Regions from separate parts of the Homo sapiens genome. Here region 1 is linked to region 2. The links come from fine-mapping of genetic effects on plasma protein levels. A gene starts in region 2. The other region holds a variant in brackets. All regions are shown on one strand. Distances are between the middles of the regions.

Region 1 (5,350 bases), 35 kb before region 2:
GCACACTCGCTGGCACTCCAGGACAAAATGCAGAGGGGGCATGAGACAGTCATCCTGGCACAGCCCTCAGGAGGGAACTGGAGGGACAACCCTGTGCCCTGCCACGGGCTTCCCAGAAGCGGGGTGGGGAAGGCGGCCCCAGTGCTAGGCCTGGTCCTCCAGCTGCGCCACGGCCTGCTTCAGGTCCTGCACGACGAGGTCCACCTCGGCCCTGGTGGTGCTGCGGCCCACGCTGAGCCGGAGCGCGTTCCTGGCCACGTCGAAGGGGACACCGTAGCTCAGCAGCACTGGGGACGGCCTGGGGAGGGCGAGACCGAGCTGCAGCTGCTGCTGAGGGCACATGGAAGAGACACAGCCCCCCCTGCTCTGGACCACTCCCCTAGTGGGGCTCTGCCCACCCGGATGTGCGCCTGCCTCGCCTGGCATCCACCTCCTGCTAAACTCCCAGACCAAGCACACCCCTAAGATCACCCACATCAAGGTGTGGCTCAAAGTCGCCCCCGTTCTCCCTGCAGAGTTCTCTTGCACTTGGCACTCCCAGGTGACACTGCCTCCCTCTCGCACTGAGCTCTGGGGCCAGGGGCTCTCCTGTCCTTGAGGGGTCTGAGGTCCTGGAGAACACGGATGCCGACACAGACAGTGCCTTACCCATGCGGCCCACCTGAGCCACTTGGTAACTTCATGGCACCTAGCATGGGGCTTTGCAGACACTAGGGACCCAGTCAGTATCTAGCCATGAACAGATGACTGCGTGGGGACATCCTGAAGCAAGGCTGTTGGAGGCTCGAGATGTGGGCTCTGTCAAGGGGCCTGACCTCATCACACCCGGGTCCCTTTCCTCCCCTGCCCCTCCTGCAGCAGGGCACTGTCCCCCCAACAAAGGGCCCCATCCTGCCCCTCCTTTTCCCTGGAGCCAGGCCCACCACTGTCTCGCTCCAGGTGCTCCTGCACAATCCCTCTGCCCTGACCTTGATGGCCACGTGCTGCTGGCTACAGTTCCGCTCTCTCCCCAGAACCCTGAGTGTTCCTCCTGCGTCCACTCCGACCTCCCACAGGGGCCTCACGTTTTCAGCAGACCAGACCCAGAACCACTTCTCCCCTGCTGCCAGCAGGCCGCTGCTCGGGCACCCCACGCCCTCTACCCCACAGTCTCCGCCAGGCAGCCCACCCGCTCACCCGGGCCCTGCTATCTGAGAATCTCTGCTGCATCTTGCAGATGGCTGATCTGACACCTGAGTCTGCTCACACCATGGCCCTCAGGGCTCCCACTTCCATGAGGTTTAAGTAAGCACTGACACTCAGGCCATCCCCACCCCAGCCCACCCCAGCCCGCCCCAGCCCTCCCCAGCCCCGGCCACGCTGGCCCTCCAGGCCCTGCCCTCCCTCCGCCTTCAGAACTGAGCACGAGAAGCCCTCTTCTCCCGCACAAGTCCTAGTCCTTCAGATGGCAGCTTGGAAGTCACTTCTTCCAGGAAGCCCTCCCTCTGCCCCTCCTAGGGCCCA[G/A]ACAGGGCTGTCCTTCACCAGCCAGAGTGCGGCCCAGTGGCCGGATCCTGCCGCCTGCCCACCACACCCAGTGCCCGGAGGACCCCTATGCCCTGGACTGGGTTTGTGAAGAGCACTTACTGGTCCCCGTGGTCCGAGTGGCACGCGGCCCCCACACTGGCCATCAGCACTCGGCACTGCGCAAGCACCACGTGGCCTGCGGAGACAGAGCACATGCCCCTGAGATGGGGCTCCAGCCAGGTTGCCCTTCTGTCCCTTCCCGGGGTCCTGCTGGGCGCAGGCTGCTTCCCTCCCTCTGTGCCACCTGGTGGAATTCCAGCACTGGCCATTCTGGCAGCTGGGGAGAGATCTCACAGCAGGAGCCGAAGAAAACGCTTCCTTTCTCCCTTGGCTGCACAAACGCAGACACTATTCTGCCTCACAAAGCTGGCCTTGAAAATCGCATTTGTAATCAACTGCCTGCTAAGACACCTGGAGTCCTGACCCGCTCCTTCCTTACAAGCTGGCAGCCCCGGCAATATCACGTCTCCACCTGTGTTCTGGATGGTAGAGACACGTGGGAGTTCTATTAAGCCAGAAGGCATTTCCCTCTTCTTTCACAAGCACAGCCATTAATGACTGCTGATGTAATTAACCTGAGAATTTCAGCCAGGTGCAGTGGCTTACACCTGTAATCCCAGCACTTTGGGAGGCCAAGGTAGAAGGACTGCTTGAGCCAGGAGTTTGAGACCAGCCTGGGCAACACAGGGAAACCCTATCTCTACAAAATATTTTTTAAAAATTAGCCAAGGCCGGGCATAGTGGCTCATGCCTGTAATCCCAGCACTTTGGGGGGCCAAGGTGGGTGGATCGCCTGAGGTCAGGAGTTCGAGACCAGCCTTGCCAACATGGCAACACCCCGTGTCTACTTAAAATACAAAAATTAGCCCAGCGTGGTGGCAGGCACCTGTAATCCCAGCTACTCTGGACGCTGAGGCAGGAGAATCGCTTGAACCCAGGAGGTGGAGGTTGTGGTGAGCCGAGATCATACCACTGTACTCAAGCCTGGGCAATAAGAGTGAAACTCCATCTCAAAAAAAAAAAAAAAAGTTATCCAGGTGTGGTGGTGCATGCCTGTAGTCCCAGCTACTAGGGAGGCTGAGGCAGGAGGATCACTTGAACCCAGAAGGTCAAGGCTACAGTGGGCTGTGATTGCGCCACAGCACTCCAGCCTGGGTGACGACAGAGTGAGACCCTGAATCAAAAAATAAATAAATAAAATGAGAACCTCTGTCTCATTTAAAGTAACACAGGTTGTCACTGAACACAAAGTCTGACCCCAGAACAAGGGGAACGTTGACAGAGAACTCTCCTTTCCATGGTGAGGAATTTGAGATGGTCAAGGAGACCCAGGCTTCACTGCCCACAAGAACGCATTTCAGCCCAGGTTCTCATGAACGCAGCCATCATGACGGTTACCCACGGGTTCTTCTTCATGGGCCAAACACGACTGCTGGGTTTCTCTGCGTGATCCAGGAAGAAGAAAGAAGCAACACTTTCATCTTCTAAGAAGTCAAAAACTTGTTTACAGATGCAGCTCATCGTGATCTCAGGGCCACTATAACCTCCTCCCAAATGACATGCGGCTGGTCAATCACCTGGACTTCCACTCTCAGGGAGTCAGGGCAGACCAGGTTTTAGGTGCATCTGGGACGGGGGTGATCCTAACTGCTCCTAGCCGAGGCAGATGTTGCAGGAAATCCAGATTTGCACTTGATCCTTACTCTGCCAGTTATTTTTGTTGTTTTTTGTTTGTTTGAGACAGAGTCTCACTCACTCTGTCACCCAAGCTGGAGTGCAGTGGCTCAATTATGGCTCACTGCAACCTCCAGGTTCAAGCAATTCTCCTGCCTCAGCCTCCCAAGTAGCTGGGACTACAGGTGCACACCACTATGCCTGGCTAATTTTTTGTAGTTTTTGGTAGAGATGGGGTTTCTCCATGTTGGCCAGGCTGGACTCAATCTCTTGACCTTGTGATCAGCCTGCCTCAGCCTCCAAAAGTGCTAGGATTACAGGCACGAGCCACTGTGCCCAGCCTCTGCCAGTTTTTAAAACTGATCACCTCCCCTTTCCCTCACTCAAATATTTAATTAAAACTGCCAACAAAATAGACAAATGTCTAGAATTTAATGTTGCTTCCTTCCCTGACGGCTTTTGGGGTGGCGCTAATGCCAGACACGAGAGTTTGCCACAGTCCACATCCCAGCAGCAGCAAAATGAGCCACGTCAGGGAGAGGAGGGGCCAGCGGCGAGAGCCCTGTGGACCACAGCACAGCCACCCGAGCCTGCTCTTGGCAACCCCAGCAAGGCCCTCTGACAGCCCGAGCTGTGTCATGCTCAGGGCAGGGCGAGTGGGAGTCACTGGCTCGGACCAGAATCCACGCACCGAGGGAGCTGTGCTCACACTCGGAAAGACCAGGGTGAGGGGCCATCACCTTGAAGCCGGGGTCCCCGGATGGAAAAGTTACAGGTATTGGGAAGCCGCTGGGTGCCTGGAAACTGGCTATTCAGATGGATTCTCTTCTGACCGAATTCAGCCTGAAAAAAATAAGTGAAATATTTGGTGACAGCTTCAAAGACACCACCACCAGCAACTGTTTGAAATTTAGACTTTTCCAGAAACACAACTTCAGCAGGTGCATACTTTTCAATCAGCATCTACCCAGAATAGTTACGGGGACGGACTATGGAAAGCAAAGTTAATTAGGAGAAAAACCAAATATTCAGAAACATATGAACCTTCCACATAAACCATGAGGTATACCACCTCTGCATATTTGATCCTGTGTCTCTGAAAAAGATCATGCCCCTGGCCTAGGGTCCTGCTTTCGGGGTTTCAGATCCCAATGTACTTTCTGCCACTGTTCTTTCTTCCCTCACTGCATCCTGCTGAGTTCCAGGCTACGCTGCAATCCCCACAGGTCCTGGGGTCTGGGAGCACCACACCCCTCCTCTCTGGGCACCTGCCCCACGCACCCTCCCCCTCCTGGTGCCCACCCCACGCTGCGCTCACTTCCAGCCTCTCTTCCAGGTAGTCGCGGACGTCCCTCATGTGGGCCTCATAAGCCTCGCAGTTCTGGGTCACCAGCTCCGCGGCCTGGGGGCAGACACACAACAAGTGGATGCACAATTCTTGCAAAATAAAGGAGGGCCAAAAAGCTTTCAACGGTACAGGTGGCATTTCCTGAAACTGCTCATTCTCCTGACAGTCACAGACAGACCATATTTTTTGAGTGCTGCCATTTGGAGGGTGTGGAAGTGCCCCAGAAACTGACTTCACCAGGTACCTCCTGACAGCACCAGGCACTGGAGATGCCTCAGCAAAGCAGCCCTGAAAGGGCTCCCTCGAGGAGCCAGCATCCCAGAGAGGCAGACGGACAAAAGCAGGGGAAGAGGGGAACAGACTCCTACCCACCAGTTGGCGCTGTGAAGGCACCTCGCAGGCCCAAGGTGGGGTGGTGACAGAGATGGCTGTACAAGGGCAGGGAATGGCGTCCCAGCAAGGGCTTTGCAGGGGACAGACAGACATTCTGTCTCTAGAACAGAGGGGCCTGGCGTGGCGGGTGGAGAGTGTGGAGGGGGTGAAGGCGCAGGGACAGATCGACAGGCCCTGCAGGCCCGGCCACGGGGCAGACGCAGTGAGGCTGAGGGAGGGATGCGATGGTCTGACTGGCCTGTCTGTTGGTCATTCTGTGGCCGTGTGGAAAATGGCAGCAGCAGGCCCCCAGGAGGCCATGGCAGGCATCCAGACCCTTGGTCTAGGGTTGGTGGCCATGAAAATGGACATGAGGCCGGTAGTGGGTGTATT
Region 2 (5,367 bases):
TCGCCTTATTTCCCCACACTCATTTTTGCGATGGCCTGTGGGGCTCCTAGTGACCTGGGCTTCTCCCTGGGGCAGGTGAACTTTGGCCCCAGACCTTGCACTTTCAGTTTCTTTGCCCAGAAAGACTACATGCCCTGCCCCCACCTTACTTTTTTAGGTCTTTGTTCCAACTTAGTCCTCTTGTGAGACCCCCTGCCCTGCAGCTCTGCTTAAAACTACAGCTGGCTGGGCGCGGTGGCTCACGCCTATAATCCCAGCACTTTGGGAGGTCAAGGCAGGTGGATCACTTGAGGTTAGGAGTTTGAGACCAGCCTGGCCAACATGGTGAAACTCCATCTCTACTAAAAATGCAAACATTAGCCCTACTAGGGAGGCTGGGGCAGAAGAATTGCTTGAACCCAGGAGGCAGAGGTTGCTGTGAGCCGAGATCATATCACTGCACTCTAGCCTGGGCAACAGAGTGAGAGTCCGTCTCAAAAAAAAAAAAAACAACAACAAAAAAAACAAACCCACAAAACTGCAGCCACCTATGTCCCTACCTCCCCAGCCTCCAGGTCCCCTTCCCGCCTTCCTTTCTGGGCAGCATCATCATCTGACATACCAGACTTGTTCCCTTACTGTCTACCTTAATAGAGTAACAGAAGTATGGCTCCATGGGCATGGGGGCTCTGTTTTTCTCACTGCCCTGTCACCAATGTTGAAGCCCATGGTTGCCACACAACAGGGGCCTGATTTTTATAAGATGACAAAATAAATGCCACAGAAAGTACAAATTCCCTGAAAGATCCCTCACTAAGTAAAATTTATCTGTATATCTTTTTACTAATATCCAAAACCTTCGAAAGCCTTTAGAAAAATGTGTAGTAGTAGTCCTGCCTGATATTAATTTATCTAGTTTTTAAATAAACAGTGCTTACACCAATCCACATGAAAACCCAGATACAATGACTAACTGTGGCTGTTAAGCCACTGAGTGTGGACAGAATGTGCATTAGTTGAAATGAAGCATCTTTTCTGTTCAAAATCACTCAACAGGCTGTGCCCTGTGGCTCACGCCTGTAATCCCGGCACTTTGGGAGGCCAAGGCGGGCAGATCACCTGAGGTCAGGAGTTCAAGGTCAGCCTGGCCAACACGGCGAAACCCCATCTCTACTAAAAATACAATAAAATTAGCTGGACGTGGTGGCACGTGCCTGTAATCCCAGCTACTTGGGAGGCTGAGACAGGAGAATCGTTTGAACCCGGGCAGTGGATGTTGCAGTGAGCCAAGACTGCACCACTGCACTCCAGCCTGGGTGACAGAGTGAGACTCCATCTCAATTAAAAAAAAAAAAAAAAATCACTCAATAGGTACAAGGCTTTGACAAGTTTGACTCGCCATCCTTTACCACTCTGGTACTAGTATTAATAGTCCTAGGAATCCCCCAGCCCGGCTTGACTTTGCATGTGCCCTTATATCTGTTTTTCTTTCCTATAAATAAGCATCCAAAGTACCTTAGGCTAGCTAGTGTTTGTTGAGCGACTGTAGCTCTTCAATCTGCTGCTGGGCTGAACAAATCTATTTTGTTCAGATTAATACTTTACACATTCCTTTGCTTCATTATTTGCTGCTTCCTTAAAATGCTATCAGTATTGGATGAGCAGGCTCAACTTTGTTAGCTTCATAACCAAAAAATAAAAAATCTTGGGAATCTCGCTCCACTGATTCCCTAGGGGATATTTTCCCAGATCCCTTCACTTTGTTCCAACCAAGGTAGAATGCCAAATGTGTGTGCTTTAGGCCTGGACCCCCTCATATTCTAAGCATGGGTAGCGAATGAGCTCACAAAAAGGAAAAAGAGGGGTCTGGAAAGAAGACACACAAACCAGAAAATGCATACCCCTGCCTCCTGCTCTTCTCGGACTTAACTAGTATGGATACCACGTGCTTCGGGTCTCCGCGCTTCTCAGCGGTGGCCATCCCGTTTCCTGCAGCTGGGCCAGCAGTCTGGGAGAACCCTTGATTCCCTTTCACCTGCCCCAGTGCACCAGCTTCCTACCAACGCATCCGTTTCTGGGCGCACACCACATCTCTCTCCTAGGTTGTTACAAGATCCCCAACTGGCTTCCCGGCTTCCTCTCGTCCCATGCCTACCCGCGCCCCTACTTTCTAGGAAGCAGCCAGAAGGACTCCTTCAAAACACTTAAATTGCATCGCCCCGTGATCAACTTCCGAGGCCCCATAAGGCTCCGAATGAACCCCAAAGTTCTTCCCGGGCTCAGGGGCTCTGCCGGTTCACCTCCGGCAAGTCCCCTGCCCTTCGCATCTGCTGTGCCCTCTTCCTGGCAGGCTCTGCTTCCCCAGAACCTGCAAACCTCACCCCTGGAAGTCACTCGGGTTTCGGCCCCAAAGTCACCTCTCCGTGGGCCCTTGCGGGGCCACAGCTCGCACCCGCTCCTCCTTGAAGCTCGCATCCCTGACTTAGGCCGACCTCGCGGACATCCCCGCGCGGGACGCCCCACGCGAGAGCGGCCACAGGCCGGGAGCCCCCTTCGTCCTCCCGCGCGGGACAATCGGCGACAGGCGCCGGCCGCTCCCCAGCCCTGCCCTAAAGGCGCGCACCTCTCCGGCGAGTTGTGTTTCCCGCAGCCGCTGGGCTGACTCGCCGCGGGTGCCGGCGCATCCCTCCCCGGCGCCACGGCCGCCTCCATCCCCGCCCCACTGCTGCCGGGCATCCAGCCTCCTTCCCGCGGAGCGCTACGGGCCCAGAGCGCCGGGGAGGAGGCGGGGCCGCGACGCCCGGGCGCGTCCGGATTGGCTGAGCGAAGCACCCCAGCCAATCCACCCGCTTCAGAGGGCCGCCGAGCCCCCAGCGGGGAGGCGAGGCTGCGCTGGGTCAGGTGACGGGTGGGGGCGGGGCTTAGCGCGTCACAGAGCTTCCCGGGAACCGGGCGCTAGAAGCCGCGTCTCCTGGGCCGGCGGATCCCCGCACTTTCACTTCCGGGGGAGCCCCGTGACCTTTGCTGTCTGCGGCAGGGCCGCCATCGGGCCGCGGCCGGTTAGTCGGCGTAAGAGCAGGCGGGGCCCGAGCTGGACCTGAGGAGCAGAGGCGGCTGGGCAGTCCTGCGGGTGCCTCCCTCTAGCCGCATGAGCGCGGGACCGTGCACTCCGGGAGAGCCGGGGCCGCGCGGCCTTGTTCCCCGCGAACCCTCGAGGGGAAGTGCCGGGGCCGCGGCAGCAGGGCCAGGGCCCCGGGGGTCTCCCGCAGGCCACCCTGGACAGTGATGAGCAGGTCCGCTGGACCTGCGCGTCCGTTAGTCGGAGCGGCTCCATAGGGGACCTGGATGGCGTGAAGTTAAGAGTCACGCATCGAGGATGGACTTGAGGGGATCTGGAGTAGAGGATGGGAGGGCATTGAGAAAATAGGGCCAGAGATGAGGGACTCTAAGTGGGCGTGGAAACGCAGGAAAGATTAATTCAAGATCTGTTTAGGCCGTTAAATAGGAATTGGGGCATGAGGGACAGGAAGGAAGCAAGGATTAGACAAGTGACTGGGAAGATGTTAGTGCCTTTATCTGGGTAAGAGGGAAGACGGGAGGGGGAAAGATGATGGGTTTAGCTTTGGACATGTTGAGTTGTCTGTGAGACAGTCACAAGTGTAAACATCCACCAATGGTTGGTGTCCCGCCAACCATTAAGAAAAGTCAGTTGAGAAAGTGGTAGAAATGAGCAAAAATCCTCACGAAGCCATCCTACCGTCACTTTTTTTGTTGTTTTTTGTTTTTTTGGCATAATAGTGTCTACCTTTAATTGAGCCTTGAACTATGCCAGGCAGTGTTCTAGGTATTTTTCGTGTGTTCACTAATTTAATCTTGATGATTAACCCAGTCTGGTAGGTATTTATGTATGAGGAATCCAAGATACAGAAAGGCATCTTGCCCAAGTTCACACGAGTAGTGGCTGGAGCCAAAATTCGGTTTCAAGCATGCTTTGCCAAGAGGTTGAATTTTAATTGGCTTTTCATGGGCTTTCTCTATTTTGTGTCCTGTTGGGGTCCAGAATAACTTGGCTTTTCCAGCACAGCAAATCTGCAAATTTCTGGACTCATTCTCTCTCATTCTTCCCTATAAACGCAGCTCATTTCTTGCCAAATGCAGCCAATAGCAAAGGGCCCACCAACATTTAAGAAGCAAATGGATGCACAGGAGCATGAGAACAGTCAAAAGAGGAGGAAAGGAAAGGGAATTGAGAAGGAATGTCAAAAAAGTCAAGAAGACACATAATAGTGTAAAGTGTGGCTGAGAGGCAATCCGAAGTCTACTGTGCGTAACAATTAGGAGGCACTGATAAACTAGCGAGAGAAGTCTCAGTGATGGGAGAGGCATGGAAGTTAGAATGCAAAGATGGGATATGAAAAAATGAAGAATGCAGTCAACTCTTAAAACGGTTGAGAAAGGAGGAATTAAAAAGGCGTATAAGATTACAGGCAAGCTGGGCGCGGTGCTTCACCCCTGTAATCCTAGCACTTTGAAAGGCTGAGGTGGGTGGATCACCTAAGGTCAAGGGTTCGAGACCAGCCTGGCCAACATGGCAAAACTCCGTCTCTACTAAAAATACAAAAAGTAGCCGACTGTGGTGGTGCATGCTTGTAATCCCAGCTACTGGGGAGGCTGAGGCAAGAGAATCACTTGAACCTGGGAGGTGGAGGTTACACAGTGAAGCTGAAACCATGCCACTGCACTCCAGCCTGGGAGTCAGAGTGAGACTCCGTCTCAAAAAAAAAAAAAAAAAAAAAGATTAAGAGCAAATAGAGACTGAACATGTTCATAGGCTAAAGGGAGTTAGCCAACAGGACGTGCAAGGAAGAGGAGCCAAAGTCCTGGAGGAGACGATAGGGGATGAAGTTAAGAGTAAAGGTGGCTAGGGAAGTTGATAGGCATGGGGAGAATTCATTCTCTAAATCTGTTTGGAAGGCTGTAAGGATAGGAGCCCAAGGACAATGGACAAAGTGACGATTCATCCCAAGCACTCCTTGGGCCAGTTAGGCAGCAATAAGGTTTGTGTTTCCAGGTGAACATAGTGAGTGTAGTGGTGGAGTCAGACAAGATAGTGTCCAACATGGCTGGTGATACCCCGAAAGAATTGAGTACAAACATACAGAAGCCCAGGTGCTGAGGTAGCCCAGCTGAAAACAGTTTAGGGTACAACACGCAGCAGCAGCTACCACCATTCCAAGTATACTGGTCACACATGCAACAGATGACCTACCAAGATGTCTCTAATACAAACACAAGTGCCCCATAGTGGCCAGACATTTGAGGAATGGCATCTCCATGAAGATAGTGAGAGGTGACAGCGTGCTGGCAGCCCTGGCAGCCCTCGCTCGC

Which allele goes with the higher level. Alleles are on the strand shown, and positions count from the first base shown. The strength of an association depends on the size of the effect and on how common the allele is.
With allele A in place of G in region 1, the plasma level of the protein whose gene starts at base 2,745 in region 2 is lower (moderate association).

Evidence for each region. PIP is the chance, under the fine-mapping model, that this variant and not a neighbour inherited with it causes the effect. Protein levels are from antibody-based Olink assays in UK Biobank. Linkage for the fine-mapping came from a reference panel and not from the study's own genotypes, which makes the PIPs less certain.
Region 1: its variant is fine-mapped to the plasma level of the SCLY protein (UK Biobank, PIP above 0.99).

The regions. Positions count from the first base shown.
Region 1 is chr2:238,093,150-238,098,499 of GRCh38, reverse strand. It overlaps SCLY (selenocysteine lyase), which reads right to left. Exons shown (of 12, transcript NM_016510.7): 9 at 4,556-4,639; 10 at 3,978-4,080; 11 at 1,624-1,699; 12 at 1-298. The coding sequence ends at 145. UBE2F-SCLY (UBE2F-SCLY readthrough (NMD candidate)) reads right to left here. Exons shown (of 19, transcript NR_037904.1): 16 at 4,556-4,639; 17 at 3,978-4,080; 18 at 1,624-1,699; 19 at 1-298. Among named protein-coding and RNA genes, the nearest start is that of ESPNL, 4.5 kb to the left of the region's middle. RefSeq lists enhancers at 1-12, 1-315, 316-983, 984-1,652, 1,653-2,320 and 2 more. The variant G/A (reference allele first, on the strand shown) is at 1,504.
Region 2 is chr2:238,058,379-238,063,745 of GRCh38, reverse strand. It overlaps SCLY (selenocysteine lyase), which reads right to left and starts at 2,745. Exons shown (of 12, transcript NM_016510.7): 1 at 2,603-2,745. The coding sequence starts at 2,691. All of the region lies in intron 8 of UBE2F-SCLY (UBE2F-SCLY readthrough (NMD candidate)), which reads right to left. RefSeq lists silencers at 2,536-2,985, 3,126-3,335.